Linked DNA regions of Homo sapiens. The protein of the gene in region 1 purifies or fractionates together with the protein of each later gene. This does not show direct contact. Each region holds a gene or a part of one and is shown in the gene's direction. Other genes may lie near its edges. The genes, in order: CLEC12B, TMEM192 and MFGE8.

The links.
Region 2: the proteins of CLEC12B (region 1) and TMEM192 purify together in Homo sapiens (co-immunoprecipitation; 2 studies listed by BioGRID and IntAct, with this or other methods). This does not show direct contact.
Region 3: the proteins of CLEC12B (region 1) and MFGE8 purify together in Homo sapiens (co-immunoprecipitation; 2 studies listed by BioGRID and IntAct, with this or other methods). This does not show direct contact.

Annotation. Positions count from the first base shown.
Region 1 is NC_000012.12:10,012,964-10,019,670, forward strand, and holds the end of CLEC12B (C-type lectin domain family 12 member B), read left to right. Parts: intron 1-841; exon of another isoform or gene 842-1,559; coding exon 1,560-1,778; intron 1,779-1,922; exon of another isoform or gene 1,923-2,288; coding exon 2,289-2,443; exon of another isoform or gene 2,444-2,648; coding exon 2,649-2,764; coding exon of another isoform or gene 2,765-2,783; exon of another isoform or gene 2,784-4,986; intron 4,987-5,367; coding exon 5,368-5,518; 3' UTR 5,519-5,833; downstream 5,834-6,707. UniProt on the Homo sapiens protein: Inhibitory receptor postulated to negatively regulate immune and non-immune functions. Upon phosphorylation, recruits SH2 domain-containing PTPN6 and PTPN11 phosphatases to its ITIM motif and antagonizes activation signals.
Region 2 is NC_000004.12:165,081,517-165,089,553, reverse strand, and holds part of TMEM192 (transmembrane protein 192), read left to right. Parts: intron 1-951; coding exon 952-1,086; intron 1,087-3,865; coding exon 3,866-3,968; intron 3,969-8,037.
Region 3 is NC_000015.10:88,897,600-88,903,833, reverse strand, and holds the end of MFGE8 (lactadherin isoform a preproprotein), read left to right. Parts: exon of another isoform or gene 1-1,651; intron 1,652-2,098; coding exon 2,099-2,283; intron 2,284-3,075; exon of another isoform or gene 3,076-3,177; intron 3,178-4,022; coding exon 4,023-4,178; intron 4,179-4,301; coding exon 4,302-4,439; 3' UTR 4,440-5,151; downstream 5,152-6,234.

The DNA of each region.
Region 1 (6,707 bases):
TGGGTCCTAGCATCCTGAATCGTCTGATACTTTTCTGCTGTCTCATATCTCTCCTATTCGTCATATCTTCCCAAAAAACCGGCAAAAGACATTATCAGGATTTGGTTCTAAATTCATTGTTTTATCTTGATAAGCTAAACTGGACTTAGACAAAGACTCTTTGTTTCCAGTTATTCATTAGAATAAAGAGCCTCTTTTCTGCCTAGACACACATTCACTTATCATTCCAATGCTGAGAAATAAAGTCAAGAAATATGTATTGAAGGAAGTGCTTGCTATTTTTATTTACCTGAAAGACTTAACACTAGACTAGGTTCAGTCTGCTTACATGAAACTTCTCTAGTGGAGAGAAATCTTCCAAGTAGCAGCAGCAGCCTGATTTCTATGAATGAGAAAGACATATAAACAAAGAGGAAGAGTGGCCTGATACACCTTACCAAGTAAGAGAGTTGAACCATCTCCACATGACAATGGAAGCTCCACTCTCAAGCACCACAGCCACAAAGGAACATTCTATTGATTCTGACCCATCCTCGGGAAGTTGGGGATGAACATGGTAGGGAGTTCTTGAGTAATGAGAAAAACATCCTGAGAATACAAACTTTATAGGGTTGTTAAGTATATGGTATACAGAGTAGTGAATTGGCATGGTATTCGCTTACAGGGAACTCACAGTCAAGAAAGTTAATTTGCTGAATGATACTAACATCTCCTCTGCTACATTCATTTCTTTTTAATGATTTAATGGATAATTTTTTAGGATTTAATGGTTAATTAGGATTTGGACATATCTTTGCCAACATAAAAAGAGACTAATGATGTACCTTGCTCTTTTGAAAAGGAATATGATGTTCAAGCAGCAGTAACAGATATTCTGGAGCCAATCAGTATGAGGATTAGCAGCCGATCTTCTACAATAATGTATATTTAAAAATTAAGTGAAAATGCAATAACGTACGTCCATTGGTTCGATATAGAAGGGTGACATTTCTTTTCTAAAATTTAGTGCTTTTGGTGCAGTGGTTCTTAAATTTGTTGTGCTGATGAAGCACCTTAAATGCTTATGAAAAGGGCATATTTCATGGACCCATGACGAGAAATGGTCTGATATGCCATTAAGATCTGCTTTTTCTTTTCTTTTGGTAAACAAGCATCTCAGGTCATCTGCAGAGTTTGAGATATCCATTGTCCCAAAGAATGCTGTTTTCATTAAAACAACAATTACATCATCTATCTCCAAATAAAATAAAACAAAAATAAAACAATTTCATGAAAATGAGTGGCAGAATGACTGGCCCTTCCTTAGATGTGATGTCAGAAATATATCATTATTAAATCATTATTTTAATATAGTGCAATAATAAAAATGTAAATAAAATTATAAAGAACTATAAATAATTTGGAATAGAAAGGCATCTGGTTTGTTTCTTTCATGATACCTCAAATACTAAGAGCTACTAATAAATCTTGAACAATTAAGAAATGTTTCTGTCACGAGAATTATCTACAGTTATAAGAATAGAAGAATATATGAACTTGTCTCCTGTCATGTCTTGGAGTTTTGCAGATATCTAATGACATTAACTCAGATTCAGAGAAATTGAGTCAACTTCAGAAAACCATCCAACAGCAGCAGGATAACTTATCCCAGCAACTGGGCAACTCCAACAACTTGTCCATGGAGGAGGAATTTCTCAAGTCACAGATCTCCAGTGTACTGAAGAGGCAGGAACAAATGGCCATCAAACTGTGCCAAGAGCTAATCATTCATACTTCAGGTAATCAGACTTAGTCCTGCTGACCAGTCAGATGGCATATGTTATCCTGGTCTAAGTTGATCACATGTACCACCTAAGAGTATTGAGAGAGTTATGTCATCCAGTGAACCTTAATGATGTTGCACTAAATTTACACACAGCAAGGAAATATACAAATTCATTTAATATTTTTGAAACCACAGGCAAATTTGGGAAGTATCTTGGAATGATATCAATCTGGATACTTCAACCCCTCATTTTATTAACTATTTCTAGGTGATCATGTTGCTCTGAAAGCTTAAAGGCATAGCTGGTAATTCTGAGGTCAGAAGACTAAGCCATGAAAAGAGAATCCCTGTTGCCCCAACCCATAACCAGGGGTCACTTTTTTTTCAGAGGCTTCTAAAGCAGTATGCTTTCAGGGTGCAGGCTCTCAGTCCCTATTGTTCAATTACATGATTTTGTTTCAAAGCCTTCTCCAGTCACTCTAGAGTCTTCAGTTTATATTATTGGGTATAATTTCCTTTTCAGACCACAGATGTAATCCATGTCCTAAGATGTGGCAATGGTACCAAAATAGTTGCTACTATTTTACAACAAATGAGGAGAAAACCTGGGCTAACAGTAGAAAGGACTGCATAGACAAGAACTCCACCCTAGTGAAGATAGACAGTTTGGAAGAAAAGGTAGGATTGAGTCTCATTCTCTAGTTATAGACATTATCCATACAATGAGAGAGAAATAAATAAAACATCTGATTCACATGATGGAAATTCAGTGCATCTTGAATTAGAATTAATACATGAATTTAATGAATGTCCTCATCTATCTTAACTCTGCAAACTGGAATGTGGCGCTCACGTAAAACTTTTTCTCTGTTTTCTCTCTTAGGATTTTCTTATGTCACAGCCATTACTCATGTTTTCGTTCTTTTGGCTGGGATTATCATGGGACTCCTCTGGCAGAAGTTGGTTCTGGGAAGATGGCTCTGTTCCCTCTCCATCCTTGTACGTCTCTAACTATTGAGGGTAAACACAAGCTTTCCATGGAATCCTGGGAAAATTAATAATGATTGTGAGAATTATAAATACAGACATAAAAAGAGGAGTACAACATACTGAGAAAAGAGCTCCAGTAACAAATATTGAAAGGAGGTATAGTTCATTTCATCTCTGTGACAAATTTATAGCAAGGCACTGAATTTTATCTTTTGGTAGAAATGTGTTTATTTAACACACACACACACCTAATACTACATTCAAAGTATTTTATAAATACTAACCCTTGAAGAAAGCAGTTATATTCCCATTTTATAGGTAGAAATATTATAATAGAGAGATTAAGTAACTTGCCTGAGGTCACTCAGCTCATAAATTGCACTTTAGGGATTGTGCACTCAGTCACTCAGCTATTCTGACTCTCCAGCACCTACAATCCAAAAGGGTGCTGCTGGTCATAAGAACACATATCAACACATTTATTTATACTAAATAACTGTCAACCATTTTCTAACAAAAAGTAAGACTGAATTGACTGATTAGTTCAACAATTAGTGTCATGTTGAGGACTTGCCAATTACAATATACGGCAAGTGTCTTTTATGAATTAAAATGAACTAAACCTTCCACTTCAGGGTTTGGATGAAACTATTTAAAGGACAAATAGAATATATAACACTTGGAAAATTTCAATTTTTTTAACTATTTAAAGTTATGAAAAAATAGACGTCAACAAAAATGTGTAAGGGGATATTAGGTTTGCTAAATTCTTTCACAGACTATAAAACAAAAAATTTTGAGGAACACCTCTCATCATAACTACATTTAAATGAAACAACTGTATTAATATTTTAAATATAATAGTATTTTTCTATTAGATAAAATTTAAGATCTTTGGCATCTTAATGGATTTTTAAACTTTTTATTGATACATAAGAGATGTATATGTTTTGGGGTATATGTGATAATTTGATACATTCAGATAGTGTGTAAAGATCAAATAAGTGGAATTGGGATATCGATCACTTTAAATATTTATCTTTTCTTTATGCTAGGAGCATTCAAATTATTATTTTCTCATTATTGTGAAATGTACAGTAGATTATTGTTAATTGTATTCACCCTAATAATCTATGAAACACTAGGTCTTACTTCTTCTATCTAACAGAATATTTGTATTCATAATGGCTTTTTATCTACCTTCCTCCCCCAACAAATCATTATCCACCCCCCTCCCTCCTGTTTCACTCTTTAAAGCATGTTGTCAACGTTTTCTTAAACTGAATAATAATCACTCATCTTCTGTCAAAGATGCCATGCTTCAGCTGTGACTCAGCAGTTCCTTAAATCACAAACAATGGTAGGTCTATTATTTTCTCCCTGGATACACTTTATCTTCATCCATTTCCCAATGTTTTGTCATGGCTATTTCTACTCAAACACTAATCCCCCATTCTCTAATCACCATTATTAATCATATCAAGTCAATTAGTTTGGTTTCACACTAATAATAATGACAAAAAGCACATGCAGAGTAATACACAAACAAAAAAAGTGACAGTTACTTTTTTGTGACAAGAGCAATATTGGGTATGAACTGATTAATATTAATCTGAGGTGTTGCTACTAGACTGAGGGTTTCCAGGAGTAGTACTATGACATCATGTAAACACATTCAGTTTTCATGTTGGAATCTAAGATGTGTCCCTTCTCCCAAAGGGATTTTAATCATTCTTGGCCTCTCTACTCACTCTTAATCAAAGTGTGGAGGAGGTGGCCCCCACAGCAGGGTTTGGAACCTACAGACCCTGGCCCCTGAGACATGCAGCTGTCAGACAAGCCAGCATGTCAAACACAGGTTAGAGAGACTGAGCTTCCAGATTGCATAGCCATTTCCTTGACTACTGAGTAAAGGCCAAGGCTAAGATTTAGTAAGCCTAGCCCTGAAGCAAGCAAAGAATATGGCAGTGTAATGCAGGTCATTTAGAAAAAAACAATGTTGGGCACAAAGAAAATTTAGATCTGACAAGTATAATTTTCTAAAGACATTATTTCAGGATTAACATCAATTTCTTAGCAGAGGAAATGAATACTATTGTCAGAACCATATCTATATAGTCAATCATTTCCTCTTTTAACGTCTGTCTTGTTCTCTTTTTACCCACCACATATGTATAACTATGTGAAAAATTATATTTGTGCATAATAAAATGTGATAACTTTTTACAACAGAATGTGATTTTATTTTTATGTTTTTCTTCATAAGGTCCCAAAGAACTTCAAGTACTTCTAATATAAGCTGAACTGATTAGATTTCATTAATGGAATTACATATTTATGAAGGAAATACAAATTCTCAGTCCAGGATTTAAGTATTTCTCTTAAAGAATTCTACCTGGGATTATGATTAACTTAAAATAAAGAACCCAGATGTGCCAGCTCTGGGCAGATTTTGTGCCAGCTTTAGGCAGCTTCAGATTTTGAAGCTTTGTGGAGGCAGAAGTCTCTCCATATTCAGATACATGACATTGGCTGTAAGAGCAACTGAGGGCACTAAATAGTGATCACGTTTCAAATACAGAATTTATAATTAATTTTAAATTAATTTTCAGATTTAGTACTAAAGAACTTGACCAGATCAATGGATCCAAAGGATGTGCTTATTTTCAAAAAGGAAATATTTATATTTCTCGCTGTAGTGCTGAAATTTTTTGGATTTGCGAGAAGACAGCTGCCCCAGTGAAGACTGAGGATTTGGATTAGTATGCTTCTTCCAAATTCTCCAAGAAGTAAGAGACTTGTGAGTAAGCTCATATGAGGAAAGAGGAAACTACGGTACCAGAGCCAAACCAGCTTTTAAAATGACTGTGTATTTACATTATCAGACAAATGAACTTGTTTAACAGAACATTCTCCAGTTCCTTGTCTGACGTCTTCTGATTTGATGTTATTATTCGGTCTTAAAATTATACCTGGGGACAAAGGGGAATAGCCATACTATGGCCCTATGATTGTCTCAGAATCATTTCACTGAATTTCTTTGCTTTCTCAAATAAAGACTCCTTTCTTTCATTATTATTATACTGTCACGTGTGCACTAGGGTGATATTTAAATATTTAAAAACTAGGGTGATATTTAAATATTTAAAAACACAGGCCACAGCACTAGAACAAGGTCCAAGAGATGCCTGTTGTGATAGTTGCTGGGTCATGTGGAGGTCTGGGGGATCCCAGGCTAAGGGTCCTGGTAGCTGGGGCTGCAGCACTGTATCAACTGATTTGGAAATATTTTATTTTAGCAAATGTTTGTACCACTGTGAACCAGCTAAGTGTCGCCCTGCACTTGCAAAATAGCTTTTCTTCTCCAACAACCCTATGAAAATAAGCGTTCTTATTAATCTTTAAAATTTAGATAATTTATAATCTAGGCATAATAATTTAATATTTACTTTTTTTTGAGACACTGTCTCACTCTGTTGCCTAGGCTGTAGTATTGTGATGTGATTGGCTCACTGCAGCCTCAATCTCCTGGGCTCAATCGATCCCTCCCACCTCAGCCTCCCGAATACCTGGGACCACAGGCATGCAACACCATGCTCAGCTAATTTTTGTATTTTTTTGTAGAGACGAGGTTTCACCATGTTGCCCAGGCTGGTCTCAAACACCTAGGCTCAAGCTATCTGCCAGCCTCAGCCTCCCAAAATCCTGGGATTACAGGTGTGAGCCACTGCCCCTGGCCAATATTTATGTGTTTGTCATTTATTTAAATTAGTAATATTGATGTTATTGATTTTGTAATCTGGGTATTATTATAAAAATATATTCTCTTACAATTGATATTTTGTTTCCCTCAGAAAAGTCCTAATAAACTGTTTGAAGACATCAAAATAGAAGAACCATTATCTTTAATTATTTAGACCTTTCCTGAATCACAGTTTGTCAGTGTTCCTGC
Region 2 (8,037 bases), on another chromosome or scaffold:
CAGGAGATCAAGACTATCCTGGCTAACACGGTGAAACCCTGTCTCTACTAAAAATATTTTAAAAATTAGCCGGGCGTGGTGGCGGGCGCCTGTAGTCCCAGCTACTCGGGAGGCTGAGGCAGGAGAATGGCGTGAAACCTGGGAGGTGGAGCTTGCAGTGAGCCGAGATAGCGCCACTGCACTCCAGCCTGGGCGACAGAGTGAGACTCCGTCTCCAAAAAAAAAGAGAACCCTTTCTCCCTTTACCCTTTTCCCTTGAAGACCCTTATTTCAGAGGGGTCCTGCCCTATATGGCAGGAGGGTTGGGGGTGAGGAGTCTACACAGAGAGGCCGAGAAGAACCTGAATAGACAGGTCTTGCTGGGTTTGCCCCTTCAGTCTATTCCCAGTAGATCATACTTTGTCCACTCACATTTCTACATGGCTGTCCATTCTTCATCAAACCTAAGCATAAGAATAGTTTTCTCTGGGTCTTTCATTTCTTTTCCTTTTTTTTTTTTTTTTTTTTTTTTTTGCAGTAGGGTCTTGCTCTGTTGCCCAGGCTGGAGTGCAGTGACACGACCTCAGCTCACTGCAGCCTCAACCTCCCAGGCTCAAGCAATCCTCCCACCTTAGCCTCCCAGGTAGCTGGAACTACAGATGTGTGCCACCATGCCTGGCTAATTTTTTATATTTTTTTATAGAGATGGGGTCTTGCTATGTTGCCTAAGCTGGTCTCGACCACCTGGGCTCAAGCAATCCTCTTGTCTTGACTTCCCAAAATGCTGACATTACAGGTGTGAGCCACTGCACCTGGCCTGGGTCTTCATTTCTGAAGGCTCTGATCACTCAGGAAATTACAAGTGTTTTAGGAGCTCTGTGTAAGGAACCAGACAAAGACCAACTATCTATTGGACAAAGACCATATATGTATTTCTCATCACATGCTGTGTTTTATGTTTCTCCTCCTCAGGCAACACAGTGCTTCTCCTCATACTGTGCATGCAGCACTCCTTCCCAGAGCCTGGCAGATTGTATCTTGACCTCATTCTGGCCATCTTGGCACTGGAACTCATCTGTTCCCTGATATGTCTCCTCATTTACACAGGTGAGAATTACAACGAGCCTGTTCTTATAGGAACTTCGAACTGCTTCCTTTCCTCCCAGTTTAAAGTATAGCCCATTAGCGACAAGGAAGTTCTCTGTGTATCTGAGTGGTGACCACATGCAGACTTCTTTAATTTCAAACCAACAGGAAGGTACAGCCACCACCAGTGAGACCCCATTCTTTTAAGATTGTGTCATTAATAAATTTTTGTTAATGCAAGTGAAACTTTTCCATTAAAACAAGACACAAACTTTTTGGGCTGGGAATGGTGGCTCAAGCCTGTAATCCCAGCTCTTTGGGAGGATGAGGCAGAAGGATCACTTGAGCTCTGGAATTCAAGACCAGCCTGGACAACATGATGAAACTCCATCTCTACAAAAAATACAAAAAATTAGCCAGGTATGGTGGTGCACAAATGTGGTCCCAGCCCCTCAGGAGGCTGACGTGGGAGGATCACTAGAGCCTGGGAGACAGAGGTTGCAGTGAGCCAAGATCACATGCCTGCACTCCAGCCTGGGTGACAGAGTAAGACCCTGTCTCCTAAAACAACAACAACAAAAACATCCACAAACTTTTGCTTCTCTGAAGGCAGCTGAAATGTCAGCTTGCATTTAAAATTAAAAATTAAGAAATAGGCCAGGCACAGTGGCTCATGTCTGTAATCCTAGCACTTTAGGAGGCTAGCACTTTAATAGAGATGGGGTTTCGTCATGTTGGCCAGGATGGTCTCTAACTCCTGACCTCAGGTGATCCGCCCGCCTTGGCCTCCCAAAGTGCTGGGATTACAGGCATGACCCACCGCACCCAGCCCCAAATTGTATATATTCATCTGCTTAATGAAGTTTTCATCCACATGTCCCACAGGCACCAACAAGATCAGAAGTGAACAGAACATAATTTTCTTCAAAATTTCCCTCCATCCTAACCGTCCTCTTCTAGCTCAGTTAACAATACCAGCCTGCATCCACTTGATAAATCAGAATCCTAGAAACGTAGGAGTCATCTACCTTCTTCCTTCTACCTCACTCCCCAAGAACTGGATAGGATTGGTGATCAGTCAGTCATCAGTCTTATTCAGTCTACCTGTCTTTCAGCTCTGTCTCTTTTCTTTGGTCCCTGCCACTGCCTTGGTTAGGTACTCATCATCTCTTGCATGGCTACATCCAGGAGACACATAACAGGTCTCTTTCCCTCTGTCCACTGATTCATATTTCTTATTCCTGCCAACATGATCTTGTTTATACTTAACTCTGATTGTTAACAGCTTCCCTGCCCAGAGTTTTCTAATAGCTGAAGGAAAAAAAATCTAACGTTTTCATGTGGCATAAAAGGCATTTTCTTTATTTTTTTTTTGAGTTGGAGTTTCACTCTCGTCACCCAGGCTGGAGTGCAATGGCGTGATCTCAGCTTACTGCAACCTCCGCCTCCTGGGTTTAAGCGATTCTCCTGCCTCAGCCTCCTGAGTGGCTGGGATTATAGGCGCCTACCACCACACCCAGCTAATTTTTGTGTTTTTAGTAAAGACAGCATCTCATCATGTTCGCCAGGCTGGTCTCAAACTCCGGATGTCAGGTCATCTATCCGCCTCGGCCTCCCAAAGTGCTGGGATTACAGACATGAGCCACCATGCCCAGCCTGAAAGGTTCTCCTTGAATGGCCTCTACCTAGCCTGCTCTTCAGGGATGATGGTGAGATCCTTTCAAAGACTGCCAGTTGCTCTGAGGATAAAATCTAAATGTCTTAGGCCGGGCCTGGTGACTCACGCCTGTAATCCCAGCACTTTGGGAGGCCTCAGCGGGTGGATCACTTGAGGCCAGGAGTTTGAGAACAGCCTGGCCAACATGGTGAAACACCGTCTCTACTGAAAATACAAAAAAAATTAGCTGGGTGTGGTGGTGCACGCCTGTAATCCCAGTCGGGAGGCTGAGGTGGGAGAATTGCTTGAACCTAGGAGGCAGAGACAGAGGTTGCAGTGAGCCAAGGTTGTGCCACTGCACTCCAGCCTGAGCGACAGAGCAAGACTCCGTCTCAAAAAAAAAAAAAAAAAAAGTGTAAATGCCTTGCATGACACACCAGCCACTCCTGATGCATTCTCTGCCTATCTTCCCAACCCACCCCTTGTCCATACACCCTCACACCCATACATACGTGTAGCTTCTCAAGACCATAGCATTTGTTCAGACTCCTCCTGCACCTGAAGCACCCTTCTTTATTCTCCTAGTCTGTGTGATTAATTCCTGGGCTCAAACTCTATCCTCTTTTCCCCTCTCTGATACCTCCTGTTGAGTTAGGCACTGCTTTCCAGGCCAAAAAGCAGCTTGACAACTCCTTGTGCAAGCCTCTTGCACAAGCTTCTATTGAAGGTACTTTCCATACTGTCTTAGAATGTAGGATTATTATCTGTATTTTCCCCTGGACCAGAGGAAGTCATGATTTCTGAATTAGATGGCTGGCTGGTTGCTCAACTTCTCTGGGCTTCACTGCGGGGTAATAGGAGCATCCACTTCATGCAGGTGTTTATGAGAACTGAATGAGGGCATCCATGTAAAACATTTAAACTGTGCCTCATGTGTTCTAAGTGCACAATAAATGTCAGCTATTATTGCTATTTCAATACTAATGTAATCCCTATATTCCCAGGGCTTAGAACAGGCCTGGCACATAGTAGAATTTGAAATACTCAAGGACGTTAATAAGAACGGCAAATTAGCATAATTTGAAAAAATGAAACTAGACTTGTCTTTCAGAATTCGATCTAATAATGACTTTATTATTTTAGTGAAAATCCGGAGATTTAATAAAGCTAAACCAGAGCCTGATATACTTGAAGAAGAAAAAATCTATGCTTACCCCAGCAATATTACCTCGGAGACTGGATTCAGGTAAGATTTAGGTGAGAATAAAATAATTGAGTTTTTTCCCCTAGAAAGCTAGAAACCATTCTGATGCTTGGAATTTATGATTGTGTATTTGTACTTTTACATTTGTTTGATTTGTTTATTTCCTTTCAGCTGTGGTGAAATCAAGTCTAAATCAGGATGTGTAAATGTATTAAATAGGCCATATATTTGATGCAAAAAATTAACCACTTAGCCAACCTATTTAACCTCTCAAGAGCTTTTGACATCATTAACTGGTTACTCCCTCCTTGAAGCACCTTTTTTTATAGGTGTCTTTTTTTTTTTTTTTTTTTTGAGATGGAGTTTTGCTCTTGTTGCCCAGGCTGGAGTGCAGTGGCATGATCTTGGCTCACCGTAGTCTCCACCTCCCAGTTTCAAGCGATTCTCCTGCCTCAGCCTCCCAGTAGCTGGGATTACAGGCATGCACCACCACGCTTGGCTAATTTTGTATTTTTAGTAGAGATGGGGTTTCTCCATGTTGGTCAGGCTGGTCTTGAACTCCTGACCTCAGGTGATCCGCCCGCCTCAGCCTCCCAAAGTGCTGGGATCACAGGCGTGAGCCACCTCGCCCGGCCTGTTATTTTCTTTTTAAGGGATAGAGTCTCTCTGTATTGCCCAGGCTGGCCTCAAACTCCTGGGCTCAAGCAATCCTCCCATTTCAGCCTCCCAAACAGCCAGCCCGGTCTGCCCACCCTTGTTTCTATCCAGTCTCTCCCTAAGTGACTTCCATGGTAATTAAAATATCATTCATATCTGTTGGAGATCTTGGGGCTAAAGTAGATGTAAAAAACTATACATGCCCAGCTAATTTTTGTATTTTTAGTAGCGACAAGGTTTCACCATGTTGGCCAGGCTGGTCTCAAACTCCTGACCTCAAGTGATCCATCCACCTCGGCCTCCCAAAGTGCTGGGATTACAGGCATGATTACACCACTCCTGGCCATGTCTGTGGTTCTTCTCATCCTGCTTTTGGATCTATATAATCTGGGACACGAGTTATTCCTTAACATCATCTGAAGTGGATAGCAACAGACATAAGAATATAGTCAGTATATATAAAGAAAGTGTGGGCCAGGTGGGGCAGCTCACGCCTGTAATCCCAGCACTTTCGGAGGCCGAGGTGGGTAGATCACCTGAGGTCAGGAGTTCAAGACCAGCCTGGCCAACATGATGAAACCCCATCTCTACTAAAAATACAAAAACTAGCCAGGCACAGTGGCGCATACCTGTAATCCCAGCTACTTGAGAGGCTGAGGCAGGAGAATCGCTTGAACCCGGGAGACAGAGGTTGCAGTGAGCCAAGATGGCGCCACTGTACTCCAGCCTGGGCAACAGAGCGAGACTCCATCTCAAACAAAAAAAAGAAAGTGTATTACTTAGGGGCTTAAGAAATGGACTCAGTGCCATTACTGATGTACTAGTTAAAAAAAGAAAAAGAAAAAAACATGACTGGGCGCGGTGGCTCATGCCTGTAATCCTAGCACTTTTAAGAGGCTGAGGTGGGCAGATCACGAGGTCAGGAGTTTGAGTCCAGCCTGACCAATATGGTGAAACCCCATCTCTACTAAATATACAAAAATTAGCTGGGCAAAGTGATGCACACCTGTAGTCCCAGCTACTCAGGAGGCTGAGGCAGGAGAATCGCTTGAACCTGTGAGGCGGAGGTTGCAGTGAGCTAAGATTGCGCCACTGCACTCCAGCCTGGATAACAGAGCAAGACTCTGTCTCGAAACAAAACAACAACAACAAAAAACTTTATAGATAAAGGAAAGAGATACTTTTAAAAACAGTTGTTGAAATAAATATAGTTTAATGTATTGGCTTTTAGTAAGGCCAATTTTTGAATTAGTGTCATTTTTAAATTAGCTTTTATAAACTGAACTGTTGTTAGGCACAGGTGTGAAGTGACAACACAGGTGTGACAGTGTTGAATCAGGATGCACATTGCTTTTTATTATAGTGTGGAATATAAATACTTAATGAATAAAAAGAAAAAAGAACAAAAAACAAAAACAAACACTTAATGAGCAGCAAGTCCAAGGTTGTTCTTCTTGGGATCGTTATCTCTGTCCCACAGTGTAAACTGATGATATCTTGATAGTTCTAGAATCCTTTACCCTCGGTTTCTTGAAGCCTGGATTATACTGTCTATAATTCTCAATACGTACAGAACTATGAAAACGGAGGTGTCTTTAGTGAAATAGATTCTTTCCCCTAGAAAATACAACTTTTTTTTGTCACTTTTCACTTACCATGATCTGCCTTCTTATTTTGTTTACTCTTTTTCTTCATTCTAACCTAAATAGAGGAATAACTTTAGTATCAATTGTTGATTATCTCTTTGTTGACTTTTGGGCTTATTAAATTCAGAGACTGTTCTTCCTGACCTTGACCCTTTTCATATTTCATCTTGTTCCCCCTGAGCACTGAAGAGTTTACCTAATATTGCTCTCTTATGACTTAATGGAAAGCTTTTTAAAATGTATTCCCTTCACCTCATGGGGTTAACTTTGGGGCAATGAAATTCAGTTTATGCCGGACGTGGTGGCTCACGCCTGTAATCCCAGTACTTTGTGAGGCCGAGGCGGGTGCATCACCTGAGGTCAGAAGTTCAGACCAGCCTGGTCAGCATGGTGAAACCCTGTCTCTACTGAGTATACAAAAATTAGCCGGGCGTGGTGGTGCGCACCTGTAATCCCAGCTACTCAGGAGGCTGAGGCAGGAGAATCGCTTGGACCCGGGAGGCAGAGGTTGCAGTGAGCCGAGATCACGCCATTGCACTCCAGCCTGGGCAACGAGAGTGAAACTTTGTTCCAAAAAAAAAAAAATTCAGTTTATATTCCTCTTTTACTTTTAAAATTTGTATGGAATGCTTCTTTGAAAATGCATCTCAGTTTGAAAATTTGAATCAACTTCCAATGAAAGAAGGTAAATCTAGCCACACGTTTATCCCTTCACCCTCCCCAGATCCTTCCAAAAGGATAGTGAAGGATTAAAAAAGACCAACCTACCCACACTAGCAGAAAAACTGGAGGAGAAAGGGACCATCGATGGTTGAGTGATTTCTGAAAATGTGTGGGCTACAGAATACAGATGAAGGAGCGGTAGACAATACCACAGGGCAGAGAGGCTACATTTAGAGGACACGGGGAGAAATAAAGCCAAGGAGGCAGCCACTCTTTTTGTGTAGCCCCAGAGAGACTTGGAACTCAGAAATGAACAGGATGCCCAGGAGTGGAACATAGGGCAGGGAACAGGGATGTTAATTGAAAGTCTACTGTATATAGACGATGTCCAGGTCTGGGTGTGGTGGCTTAGGCCTGTATTCCCAGCACGTTGGGAGGCTGAGGCGGGTGGATCACTTGAGGTCAGGAGTTTAAGACCAGCCTGGTCAACGTGCTGAAACCCCATCTCTACTAAAAATATAAAAATTAGCTGGGTGTGGTGGTGCACGCCTGTAGTCCCAGCTACTCGGGAGGGTGAGGCAGGAGAATCGCGGGAACCCTGGAGGCGGAGGTTGCTGTGAGCCGAGATCATGCCACTGCACTCCAGCCTGGGCAATGGAGTGAGACTCTGTGTTGAAAAAAAAAAAAAAAAAGAAGATGGTCAGTCATGGTGGCTCACGCCTGTAATCCCAGCACTATAGGAGGCCAAGGAGGGTGGATCACTTGAGGTCAGCAGTTTGAGACCAGCCTGGTCAACATGGTGAAACCCCGTCTCTACTAAAAATACAAAAATTAGCCGGGCATGGTGGTACATGCCTGTAATCCTAGAGGCTGAGGCAGAAGAATAGCTTGAACCGGGGAGGCAGAGGTTGCAGTGAGCCGAGATTGCGCCATTGCACTCCAGCCTGGGCCACAGAGCAAGACTCGGTCTCTGCCGGACACGGTGGCTCACGCCTGTAATCCCAGCACTTTGGGAGGCCGAGGCGGGTGGATCATGGGGTCAGGATATCGAGACCATCCTGGCTAATATGGTGAAACCCCATCTCTACTGAAAAATACAAAAAAAAAAAAATTAGCCGGGCGTGATGATGGGCGCTTATAGTCCC
Region 3 (6,234 bases), on another chromosome or scaffold:
CCCGCAGTGTCATCACCTAGGAGCTTCTTAGAAATGCAGACTGAGGCCGGGTGCGGTGGCTCACGCCTGTAATCCCAGCACTTTGGGAGGCCGAGGCGAGCGGATCACCTGAGGTCAGGAGATCAAGACCAGCTTGGCCAACATGGCGAAGCCCCGTCTCTACTAAAAAAATACAAAAATTAGCCAGGCGTGGTGGCAGGTGCCTGTAATCCCAGCTACTAGGGAGGCTGAGGCAGGATAATTGCCTGAACCCGGTCAGAAGGTGGAGGTTGCAGTGAGCCGAGATCATGCCACTGCACTCCAGCCTGGGTGACAGAGCGAGACTGTGTCTCAAACAAACAAACAAAAAAACAAAAAAAAAGAAATACAGACTGAAAGCCCCAGCCTAGACTTGCTGAAACATAAGCTTTTTTTTTTTATATCAAGATCCCCAGGTGATCTGTGAGAATTACTCCCCTAGTATCTCATTTTATAGATGGGGAGACTGAGAGCCAGAGAGAGGAAGGGACTTCCTAGAGTGCTGGAGCTGACAGTCCTGTCCCTGCCCTGGTGCCCCTTCCAACTGCATTTTACCAGAAAGGCTGTCTGACTTCCTGGGGAGGCTGAGAGTGAGGAGGGTATGAACCACTAGAAGCAGATGATCTGTAGAGGGGTCTGCGTTGAGCACATTGTGCAGAATTGGTGTCCTCTGCAAAGCTGCCCAGGTTTTAGCCTGCCTCAGGCCTCTCCTCTTCTGGGGCCAAGGGACAACCAGCTCTCAGCCCGGGAGCCTCTCTTTGAGGGGGAAGGTGGTGGTTCCCTGGTGCATCACCATCAGGAGATGATGGTACCATCAGCAGGCATTGTCAACACACCCTGGAGGCAAATGTCTTGAGTGGTGAGAGTACAGGTGGGCAGTGATATAACTTAGCTGGCTCCCAGTACTCTTGAGTGGTGAGAGTATTGGAGGGCAGTGATATAACTTAGCTGGCTCCCAGAGGGCAGGGGGCTCTCCAGTCCCACCGTCCACTCCTGCCTCCCTCAATTCCCCAGAGGGATAGACACTTGTGGAGTGAGGATTCTTCCAGGTGGGAGACACCCCCATCATTCTCTTGGGAGTTGTATCTCTTGCCCATCCCCAACTGTTCTATCCATATGCAGGTGCAGATACAAGTGCAAGGCAGCCCGGCACATTCCTGAGTGTTTGGGGCAGGGCTGAGTGAAACAAAGGCCAGCTTCCCGGGCCAGCCCTCACAGGCCTGTGTGACAGCATCCCCAGAACATTTGAGTGTGCGAAGGCCCTCTGGGAGACACTAAGTCAGGGGGCTTCTGGGGAATGGAAATAGAGATGTTCCTGTGCCCCAGGAGTTGTCTGATTTCTCTAACTGCCAGCTGCTGGAGGGCAGGGATGTTGTCCTGTTCATCACTGGGTCGTCACTAGGCAGGCCTTCATCATCTAGCTGGGATGTGTAGCTGGTAGAGGTGACGTCATAGTGTGACATTAGGAGTTTGTATGTGACTTGAGCATGATGCTTAATGTCTTTCAGTTTTCTCATCTATAGAATGGGCTTACTAATTTCTACTTCATTTAGTGTTTTTTTTTCTTTTTTTTTTTGGTGGCAGGTTAAATGACTGAAGTAAGCACTGAATAAACAATGTGGTTGTTATTAAAGTAGATAGTGACTGTGCCATGGGACGGATGGGAGGCCGAGGCGATGGGGGCAGTGCTGTGAGTCCAGAAGAGGAAGAAATCCTGCCCAAGTGAAGTAGTCAGGGCAGACTTCTTGGAGGAGGTGTCTCCAAAGTCAGGCATTGAAGGAGGGCAGGAGGTGGTGGAGCAGGGGCCTTCCCTGGTGCAGAGGAGAAGGGTGGTGAGTGGGAGGTCTTGGGTGATCTGTGAGGAGCTGAGCCCGGCTGGTTGAGGTGAGGAGGTGGTGGGGTCGGCAGTGAGAAGGTCGCACAGTTGGCCCTGCAAGGCGGATGGAGCTGCTTTCTGTTGCCCAAGAGCATGACAGGGGCTGGTCAGGATCCACAGAGTTCTTTCTGCTTCATCGCCTTGTGCTCCTGCCCCTGGGAGCTGTGGATCCCAGATCCAGATGACAGCCCACCTTGCTGGCAGGATGCGCCAATCCCCTGGGCCTGAAGAATAACAGCATCCCTGACAAGCAGATCACGGCCTCCAGCAGCTACAAGACCTGGGGCTTGCATCTCTTCAGCTGGAACCCCTCCTATGCACGGCTGGACAAGCAGGGCAACTTCAACGCCTGGGTTGCGGGGAGCTACGGTAACGATCAGTGGCTGCAGGTGGGTCAGCCTTCTTGGGATATGGGGCTGGGGTTGGGTGGGATGAGGTGGGACTGCCAGATCTTTGACCTCTCTCCAGCCCAGGCTTCTCTTCTGCTCCCCAAAAGAGTTCTGGAAAAGCCTTGTTTTTCTTCGGCTTTTCTTTCTTCTTCCCACCTGTACTCCCTTCTCTTGATCCTGCTTCCACCAAGGTGGAGAAAGGGTGTGTGTGTGTATGTGTGTGTGTGTGTGAATGTGTGTGTGTGAGTGTGTGAATGTGTGTGAATGTGAGTGTGTGTGAATGCGTGCGTGTGAATGCGTGCGTGTGAATGTGTGTGTGAATGTGTATGTGTGAATGTGTGTGTGTGAATGTGTGAATGTGTGTGTGAATGTGTGAGAATGTGTGTGAATGTGTGTGTGAGAATGTGTGTGTGAATGTGTGTGTGTGAATGTGTATGTGTGAATGTGTATTTGTGAATGTGTGTGAATGTGTATGTGAATGTGTATGTGAATGTGTATGTGTGAATGTGTGTGAATATGTGTGTGTGAGAATGTGTGTGTGTGTGTGAATGTGTGTGTGTGAATGTGTGTGTGTGAATGTGTGTGTATGTGTGTACACAAGGGGAGAGCCATTCCATGGGCTGCCACAGGATTGACAAGGCTCAGCCTATGGACAGACAGCAGGGCGGAGGCGGAAGAGGGAGACATGACCCAGGCATCTTGGGACCTCTCCCTTGAGCACAGCATACATATTCTCTGACTCAGTGTCTAAGAAGCCACCATGTGACAGCCCTTGTCTGTCATTGAAACTAGGAAACAAAAGAGAGCCATGGAAAACCGGAGCTTGTTTTATAGATGAGGAAGCCGAGAGCTGGCAGGACGATGATCTGCCTAGTACCCACCTGCTGGCTGGCAGTGAGTTGGGTTTACACCTGGATGTTGGGGAACTGTGTGTCCAGGTGCAGCTGGCAGGTTCTCCAGGGAGGTCAGGGACCGGGGACAGGAGGTCTGTCTCAGGGCCCCATGGAGCACACTGCGGAGCTGGGTTCCCTGAGGAGCTGCCTGCCTGTGGACACCCTCAGGACCAGTGTCAGACTGTGGGCGGCGCCGCAGGGAGCCTCTAGAGCAGTTCATGCCCCTCCAGGCTGTGGCCTCTCCTGTCCTTCTTCCCATCACAGTGCAGTGCAGGTCTCAGGCAGGGGTGGTTGGCGTGGAGTTGGCCAGGGCCCAGACCCTATGAGCTTTATAGCAGTGAGGTACCGAACACCATGTGTGGCAAAGTAGGTGGTATTATTTATGCCCCCTCACCGCTTTTTTTTTTTTTTTTTCTGAGACAGAGCCTTGCTCTGTCACCCAGGCTGGAGTGCAGTGGCGCCATCTCGGCTCACCGCAACCTCCGCCTCCCAGGTTCAAGCGGTTCTTCTGACTCAGCCTCCCTAGTAGCTGGGATTACAGGCAGCCACCATCATGCCCAGCTAATTTTTTGTATTTTTAGTAGAGACGGGGTTTCACCATGTTGGTCAGGCTGGTCTCGAACTCCTGACCTCAGGTGATCCACCTGCCTCAAGTCTCTCCCAAAGTGTTGGGATTATAGGCATGAGACACCATGTCCGGCCTTATGCCCATTTTATAGCCAAAGAAACTGAGGCTCACCCAAGTAGTTTTTTTCAAAACTAGAATTCATGCCTCAGTGTGTCTGCCTCTTTTCACCTTACTGGAGATGGTCCAAGCAGAGAAAATGTGGTTGGTTTCTTCTGTAGGTGGACCTGGGCTCCTCGAAGGAGGTGACAGGCATCATCACCCAGGGGGCCCGTAACTTTGGCTCTGTCCAGTTTGTGGCATCCTACAAGGTTGCCTACAGTAATGACAGTGCGAACTGGACTGAGTACCAGGACCCCAGGACTGGCAGCAGTAAGGTGGGTGTCTGTCCAGCTGCCCACCCTTTGCCATTCCTTCATTACTTCCCTGGGAGTCTGGCCTGGGGCTCTGAGGGGAGGGGGGCTGGCTCGGGGTCCTCCTGACACCCGCTCTGCCTCTAGATCTTCCCTGGCAACTGGGACAACCACTCCCACAAGAAGAACTTGTTTGAGACGCCCATCCTGGCTCGCTATGTGCGCATCCTGCCTGTAGCCTGGCACAACCGCATCGCCCTGCGCCTGGAGCTGCTGGGCTGTTAGTGGCCACCTGCCACCCCCAGGTCTTCCTGCTTTCCATGGGCCCGCTGCCTCTTGGCTTCTCAGCCCCTTTAAATCACCATAGGGCTGGGGACTGGGGAAGGGGAGGGTGTTCAGAGGCAGCACCACCACACAGTCACCCCTCCCTCCCTCTTTCCCACCCTCCACCTCTCACGGGCCCTGCCCCAGCCCCTAAGCCCCGTCCCCTAACCCCCAGTCCTCACTGTCCTGTTTTCTTAGGCACTGAGGGATCTGAGTAGGTCTGGGATGGACAGGAAAGGGCAAAGTAGGGCGTGTGGTTTCCCTGCCCCTGTCCGGACCGCCGATCCCAGGTGCGTGTGTCTCTGTCTCTCCTAGCCCCTCTCTCACACATCACATTCCCATGGTGGCCTCAAGAAAGGCCCGGAAGCGCCAGGCTGGAGATAACAGCCTCTTGCCCGTCGGCCCTGCGTCGGCCCTGGGGTACCATGTGGCCACAACTGCTGTGGCCCCCTGTCCCCAAGACACTTCCCCTTGTCTCCCTGGTTGCCTCTCTTGCCCCTTGTCCTGAAGCCCAGCGACACAGAAGGGGGTGGGGCGGGTCTATGGGGAGAAAGGGAGCGAGGTCAGAGGAGGGCATGGGTTGGCAGGGTGGGCGTTTGGGGCCCTCTATGCTGGCTTTTCACCCCAGAGGACACAGGCAGCTTCCAAAATATATTTATCTTCTTCACGGGAACTCTTGGTGTGGTTCGTTATTGTTTCATGGGAATGGGATTTAAATTGCGCTGGTTTCCCCATCCCCCACCTGTGGTCCTCCCTGAGCCCCAGCTTGCTTGCTTGCTTTTTTTTTTTTTTTTTTGAGATGGAGTCTTGCTCTGTCGCCAGGCTGGAGTGCAGTGGTGTGATCTCGGCTCATTGCAATCTCTGCCTCCTGGGTTCAAGCATTTCTCCTACCTCAGCCTCCCAAGTAGCTGGGACTATAGGTGCACACCACCATGCCCAGCTAAGTTTTATATTTTTAGTAGAGACAGGGTTTCACCGTGTTGGCCAGGATTGTCTCAATCTCTTGACCTTGTGATCCACCTGCCTCGGCCTCCCAAAGTGCTGGGATTACAGGCGTGAGCCACCGTGCCCAGCCCCATCTTTCTTTATGTCACCTGCCTGACTACACATAGCTTCATAGCAGGAGGCTGGAGACTTTGGTCCAGGGCGGCCTGAAGGAAGTCAGGACTTCCAGGTCCTCAAAACCTGACTTCCCCTCTTCCCTCTGCTTTCTACCTCCATGCCGTCTGGCCCTGAGCCCTACAACTGCTGCCTGGTCAGGGGCCCAGCGAGTGCTGGCAGACACTGTCTCCTGAATGCTTTTGCTCCCTTCCTGCCAGGAAGACTGGCTGGGGCAGCTGGTTTTCCCCTTCAGCAGTTTCCATTCTCTCTGCAACTGGAGTGGTGGGCTGGAGAAACTATAAGAAACTCAGTGAACCTGGATGCCTTCCGAACTGCGGGAGTTCCTGGGGTGGGTGCAGCGTGGGACTGGAGGAGGGGGCCGGGGCTCTGCCAAGTGGGCATGAGGCCTCCTGCCTGAACACACTGGTTCCTGGTAGGCCACTGGCGTGTGTGCTCCAGGGATACCCTCTCTGCCCTCCCCTGTGTGGGGGTCATCAAGAAGTGGGGGTGGGCCTTGCGGGCCAGTGTCTTGGTGATCTGGAAGGGTGACTTGCAGGCAGAGGCTTGGCTAGCTTGGGAAGGGGTGTAGGAAAAACCACCCTCTTTGTCAAGGTGAATTTTTCCAAACTTTGGGAGCCGGCTGTGTTCTGCAGGC